2 linked regions of the Homo sapiens genome follow. The protein of the gene in region 1 interacts with the protein of each later gene in a pairwise test. Each region holds a gene or a part of one and is shown in the gene's direction. Other genes may lie near its edges.

Evidence for each region. Proteins that work in one complex are often made in the same cells at the same time.
Region 2: the proteins of NFE2L1 (region 1) and PARVA interact in a two-hybrid assay, tested with the Homo sapiens proteins (one large-scale study listed by BioGRID and IntAct).

The regions. Positions count from the first base shown.
Region 1 is NC_000017.11:48,058,359-48,062,045, forward strand, and holds the end of NFE2L1 (endoplasmic reticulum membrane sensor NFE2L1), read left to right. Parts: coding exon 1-1,283; 3' UTR 1,284-3,187; downstream 3,188-3,687.
Region 2 is NC_000011.10:12,384,071-12,387,570, forward strand, and holds part of PARVA (alpha-parvin), read left to right. Parts: intron 1-3,500. UniProt on the Homo sapiens protein: Plays a role in sarcomere organization and in smooth muscle cell contraction. Required for normal development of the embryonic cardiovascular system, and for normal septation of the heart outflow tract.

The DNA.
Region 1 (3,687 bases):
GCACCAACTACAGCCTTGCCCCCAACACTCCCATCAATCAGAATGTCAGCCTGCATCAGGCGTCCCTGGGGGGCTGCAGCCAGGACTTCTTACTCTTCAGCCCCGAGGTGGAAAGCCTGCCTGTGGCCAGTAGCTCCACGCTGCTCCCGTTGGCCCCCAGCAATTCTACCAGCCTCAACTCCACCTTCGGCTCCACCAACCTGACAGGGCTCTTCTTTCCACCCCAGCTCAATGGCACAGCCAATGACACAGCAGGCCCAGAGCTGCCTGACCCTTTGGGGGGTCTGTTAGATGAAGCTATGTTGGATGAGATCAGCCTTATGGACCTGGCCATTGAAGAAGGCTTTAACCCTGTGCAGGCCTCCCAGCTGGAGGAGGAATTTGACTCTGACTCAGGCCTTTCCTTAGACTCGAGCCATAGCCCTTCTTCCCTAAGCAGCTCTGAAGGCAGTTCTTCCTCTTCTTCCTCCTCCTCTTCCTCTTCTTCCTCTGCTTCTTCCTCTGCCTCTTCCTCCTTTTCTGAGGAAGGTGCGGTTGGCTACAGCTCTGACTCTGAGACCCTGGATCTGGAAGAGGCCGAGGGTGCTGTGGGCTACCAGCCTGAGTATTCCAAGTTCTGCCGCATGAGCTACCAGGATCCAGCTCAGCTCTCATGCCTGCCCTACCTGGAGCACGTGGGCCACAACCACACATACAACATGGCACCCAGTGCCCTGGACTCAGCCGACCTGCCACCACCCAGTGCCCTCAAGAAAGGCAGCAAGGAGAAGCAGGCTGACTTCCTGGACAAGCAGATGAGCCGGGATGAGCACCGAGCCCGAGCCATGAAGATCCCTTTCACCAATGACAAAATCATCAACCTGCCTGTGGAGGAGTTCAATGAACTGCTGTCCAAATACCAGTTGAGTGAAGCCCAGCTGAGCCTCATCCGAGACATCCGGCGCCGGGGCAAGAACAAGATGGCGGCGCAGAACTGCCGCAAGCGCAAGCTGGACACCATCCTGAATCTGGAGCGTGATGTGGAGGACCTGCAGCGTGACAAAGCCCGGCTGCTGCGGGAGAAAGTGGAGTTCCTGCGCTCCCTGCGACAGATGAAGCAGAAGGTCCAGAGCCTGTACCAGGAGGTGTTTGGGCGGCTGCGAGATGAGAACGGACGACCCTACTCGCCCAGTCAGTATGCGCTCCAGTACGCCGGGGACGGCAGTGTCCTCCTCATCCCCCGCACGATGGCCGACCAGCAGGCCCGGCGGCAGGAGAGGAAGCCAAAGGACCGGAGAAAGTGAGCCTGGGGAAGAAGGGGGTTTGAAGCCCACCAAGACCGAAACTGGAGAAGGGCTGGACCTGGACCTGGACCTGGACCTACAGCGGGGACTTAAATGCCTTCTTATCCAATATATCTTCTCAGATGGGATGACTGCGGGTCAGTGTACAGGAAGAGGCAGGCACTGGCTGGCTCAGCTCCACTCGGGTGGAGTGGAAGTGGCCAGACCATTTAGACGGACAGGGTCCTCACCCTACCCCTTTCCTGTGAGGCAGGGGTGGTGGTGGAGTTGCTGGAGGTAGAGGAGCTATGTGGAGCAAAGGCCGACAGAGGGGAAGGAATGGACCTGTGAGAGGAAGGGAAGGTGGCAGAAAGTCTCATTTCAGGAAGGAGGGATAGAAGGAAGGAAGGAAGGAACCCCCCCCCCCCCGAAAAAAAAATCAAAGCGGGAAGAAAATCAGAGGGAAGGTTAAGGTTGGCTCTGGCCAGGATTCCAGGCAGCAGGTTGGAGTGACTGGTGGGCCTAGATCACTGGTGTGATAAACCCCAATTTTCACCCCGGGGGGGGTGGGGTACACAGACACAGGGTGGGGGTGGGGAGGGACGGTGTTAACTCTTTCTGCTCCTTGCATTTTGACATCCCTGAAGGGGAGCTCTTGGATATCATTGGCCATGTTTCAATCGAATGGAGCCACTGGGCCCCAACACTGGCTTTGAGATTTAGAGTCAAAGGGTAGAGTGAACAGGAAAGGGTCACGTGGTCCCATGTTGCAACAGCCCCAACATCACGCATGTCATTCACTGCCTTGCCACTCCATCTCCCTCCGTGCTCCAGCCACCCCTGAGCTGAGGCTCCCATTGTCTCCATCAGAGCCTGCATGTGTATGCCGTCCTCCCCTGGTCCGGTGTTTGTGTTCCCCACCCCTCACAGACTGCCTGAGCTCTTCTGTAAGCTGGGGTAGGGTGATGGCAGTGCTCCGGGAACTGGGCCTGCAGCCTTCCTCTTCTGGGACTGCTGTGAGGCAGAGGAATGATGGAGAATCTAGTGTAGCAGCCTCCAGGCAGGATTCAGCACAACACTGGGGAGTCACCCTTCCCTCGGGCCTCTGCCTACCAACAACTGGGCTTATCACTGGGAAAACACAAAAAATTACACAACCCAGCAACAACAAAAGAACTAGTCCTCTTAGAATTTCTTGCGCTTTGATTTTTTTAGGGCTTGTGCCCTGTTTCACTTATAGGGTCTAGAATGCTTGTGTTGAGTAAAAAGGAGATGCCCAATATTCAAAGCTGCTAAATGTTCTCTTTGCCATAAAGACTCCGTGTAACTGTGTGAACACTTGGGATTTTTCTCCTCTGTCCCGAGGTCGTCGTCTGCTTTCTTTTTTGGGTTTCTTTCTAGAAGATTGAGAAGTGCATATGACAGGCTGAGAGCACCTCCCCAAACACACAAGCTCTCAGCCACAGGCAGCTTCTCCACAGCCCCAGCTTCGCACAGGCTCCTGGAGGGCTGCCTGGGGGAGGCAGACATGGGAGTGCCAAGGTGGCCAGATGGTTCCAGGACTACAATGTCTTTATTTTTAACTGTTTGCCACTGCTGCCCTCACCCCTGCCCGGCTCTGGAGTACCGTCTGCCCCAGACAAGTGGGAGTGAAATGGGGGTGGGGGGAAGCACTGATTCCCAGTTAGGGGGTGCCTAACTGAGCAGTAGGGATAGAAGGTGTGAACCTGGGAGTGCTTTTATAAATTATTTTCCTTGTAGATTTTATTTTTAATTTATCTCTGTGACCTGCCAGGGAGAGGGGAGAGAGAGAGAGATGCTGTTGAGCACATGACAAAATAAAATAAAATGGATGATTCATTCTTAAGTGCACTTTTTCCCCACTTTGAATTTAAATTGAGAATAAAGGAAATGGACTCATTGTAGGGAGGACTGGCCATTGCGTGGCTAAGGCAGAGCTCACATGGGAAGATGGGTGGAGAACTGGGGAGGTTGACAGTGGGGAACTTCAAAAGGCAAGTCTTAAATATTGTATTAAACCTTGGGGGCAGGCATTAGACACCATGTACTTCATAGGGTTAGCCAGCTCAATCCTCTCAGGAAGGATTCGGAGTTTTTTTATTCTCATACAGCTAGGATAGGTGGAGGTGTCATTTAACCCAGCTCTTTACCTGTCCACCTGCTACAAACTACATTTTTAAACTCAACTGTGCTGTTATTTTTCTATTGGCCTCACCTGCCAAAGGGGTGCAGAGAATTGGAGTGTAGTTATGATGTTGAAAACCTGAGAAATCCATGGCAGCGACTAACATGTGACAAGCACTACTGTGTTAAGCAGGAGCAGGGCCACTAAAGAGAAGCAGGAGGCCAAGGTTTAGGACACTGGGAAACCTCCCCAGCTGAGGGGGCTAGAATCTGCTTTCCC
Region 2 (3,500 bases), on another chromosome or scaffold:
AGGAGGTCCCTTCTCTCCTTGCTCATAAGGCCATTTCTTTCAGCTTCCTCCCAGACTTGGCATAGCCAGATATGCTATTTCTCATATCCCATCTTTTTTTGCCACTCTGTCGCCCTGACGTTCTGTAAATATGCTTGAGTCTTTCCTATTTGGAGAAAGTCTCCTGATACTGGTTTCCTCTTTAGCTACTCACCAGATGCCTTGAAAGAGTTATCTCTACCTGCTTGTCTTTTCTTATCTCCCAGTCACTTTCTGATCCATTATTTCCATTCTTTCAGCAACTATTTATTGAGTGCCTAACACGTACCATGCACTGTACTAGGTTCTAGAAAGGAAAACAAAACAAAAACTCTTGCCTTCCTGGAGCTTACATTCTAACAGGGGAGACAGGTAATAAACAAGATAAATTGGTAATGTTTGTATTTTGTTTGAGTGGTAGTAAGTGCTAGAGAGCAGAATAAAGCAAGAAAAAGAGAAATAGAGGGTTGTGGTCTGAGGATGGTTGTCAGTATTAAGTAGGATGGCTAGAGAAGGCCTCACTAAGAAGGGTAGATTTGAGTCCCAATCTGAAGGAAGTGAGGAAGAGAACCATATGTATATCTTGGAAAATAACATTACAGGTGGAAGGAATGACAGATGCAAAGACCTTGGGGCAGGTGTGGACCTGGTACATTATTGAGGACCAAGAAGGAGGTTGATGTGACTGGAGAAGAGAGTGAGCATGATTGTGGAACGGGGGTTGGTCCCGGGTGTAACAAGAGGAAGGGCAGAGGCAGGTTTTGTAGGGCCCTGGAAGCCATTGTAAAACTTGGGCCTTTACTCAGAGTTAGATGGGAAGGCTCGGGAAGACTTTGTGCAGAGGAATGGCGTGATCTCACTTCTGTTTTAACTGATGGTGCTAAAACACCATCACTCAGATGGTGTTAAGTGACTGAAGCAGGCAGAGATGAAGCAGGGAGATGAGGCAAAAGGTTTCTAGAATGAGGCTGGGCATGGTGGCTCACGCCTGTAATCCCAGCACTTTGGGAGGCGAAGTGGGTGGTTTGCTTGAGCTCAGGAGTTCAAGACCAGCCTGGGCAACATGGCGAAACCCCATCTCTACAAAAAAATTAGCCATGGGTGGTGGTGCACACCTGTAGCCCCAGCTACTCAGGAGGCTGACATGGAAGGAACGCTTTAGCCCAGGAGTTTGGGACTGCAGTGAGCCATGATCACACCACTGCACTCCAGTCTGTGTGACAGAGCAAGACCCTGTCTCAATAAATAATAAATAAATAAAGGCTACCAGAATGACCCAGCTGAGAGATGGTAGTGCTGAGGAACAGAGTGGTAGCAAGGGAAGGAGTGAGGGTCAAATTCTGGATATATTTTTAAAATACAGCAGATCTTGATGAAAGATCGGTTGGCAGCTAAGAGTAGAATTAAGATGACCCCAAAGGTTTTGGTCTGGGCAACTAAAAAGATGAACTGATTTTAACTGAGTTGGAGAATCCTGGAGGAGGTCAGCAACTTTTTCTGAAAGGGCCAAATAGTAACTATCTAAGGCTTTATGAGACCTATGACCTGGTTTGCACTATTCAGCTCTGCCTTTGCTGCCAGAGACAATAGGTCAATTAACAAGTGTGGCTATGTTCCCATATAATTTTAGTTATGGTCACTGAAATTTGAATTTCCCATTATTTTCATGTGTTACAAAAGATGCTTCTTTTGTTTCTTCTCAGCTATTGAAGGAAGCATGTACGTGTACATGAGAATGTAAAAACCATTCTTAGCACTTGGGCTGTACAAAATAGATGGCAGCCTGCACATGACCCAAGGGCAGTAGTTTGCTGCCCCATCCTCCATTTTATTCCCCATGTCTAATCATCTTTTATGAAATCCTGCTGAGTCTACCATCACTAAATATCTAAATATCACTGCTTTAATTCAGCCTTCACAAGTGCTCTGGATTGTTCGTTCATTTTCAAAATTTTTACTCTTATTTTCCACCTGAAATACTGTGTTATCCACCCAGCTAGGCTTCCTATCATGGGTCCATTTTTGTTCAGCCCATTCTTCATCCTTTTGCCACTACATTGTTTTTTAAAGCACAAAGATAACTTCTCTCCAGGACAAACTTCTTAACATGCCATCCAAGGCCTTCACAGCTACTCCTTCCCTTACCTTTTTGCTGTCTCCTCTATTTCCCTTCCAATAAATCTCCATTTTTACCATAGGAAACCACTCTTAATCCCCCAAACATGTCATTTTCTTTCACATGTTTATGCCTTTACATGCTGTTCCATATTCTGGAAATACCTTTTCCGTTTCCTATACAACCAACTTCTGTTCATTCATAAAGACCCAACTCAGAAGTCCTCTTCTGCATGAAGCCTTCCACAGTGCCCACAGGAAGAGTGAGATGCTTCCTCCTCTGTGATCCCACAGTGCCTTGTCTATACTCTGTGCTAGCACTGGTCATGTTGCATTGCAGCTGCTTGTCACACACTATGGTGACAGCCCTCTTGCCTACCATAATATCATCAAACACACAGTTATTAGAATTTCTGTGGAATGAATTTCCCCATATTTACCTTGATGAAAATAGCCCACCATTAACTGGCCATGTAATCTTAGACAGATCTCTTCCCCTTTTGGTGTTATTTGCCCATTTCTAACATTAAAAGATTAGACTAAATAACCTCTTAGGTCCCTGCTGCACTGGTATTCTATGATTTCTGAGCTCTTATTTCACCCAGCTTCTCTCAAATTCAGTTTTATTGTCTGTGTAGGGTGGTCTGGGAATTACATCATCACAAAGACCTCTTTCTTTCCTCTACTAATGAAGGCACCTCTGTGTCGGGAGGAGGAGATGGATACCAGGATAAGTGGGCCCCGGCCCAAGGACACCTCCATATTAGGAATCAGCCTTCTTGTCTCATGGAATATCTCTATTTGGTTAACAAGCACAGTTCATAATTATGTTCCAGCCATGAGTCCAGGAGAAGAGATGAAATCCTCATGTAAACATTTGTAAGCATCTAAAATCTCCACTCACTGTCATGGAACAAAGAACAACATTTGAGGAAAGCCCTACAATCATTTCAAAAATAAAATACTTTTAAAAAGTATGTGTAAACACATTCTGTTAGGTTTTCAATAGGTTGTGCAGCCTGAAATCAGTAGGAAATCCAATGAGGGCTTTGCCTGAGGACCAGAGCACCAGCACAAGGAGACCTCCTCCTGCACAGGCCCTAGGCAGCATCCTTTCTTTTCTGTTTTTTCTGCAGATGCCATGAGGGTAGCCGTTGTGTGGTATCTTTGGTGCCTAGCATACTACCTAGTACTTAACCAGTGCTCCCTAAAATGCTTCTTAACTAACTGTCTGAATCATCACTGGGCATCTTATTCCCATAGAGGGAGTCCCCAGGTTACCCCAAACTCTGCTTTAACCTTGGATGACTCTTCCAGTCCCCAGATTCTATCCAGGTCTCTATTTTTGAGCGTGTGTGTGTGTGTGT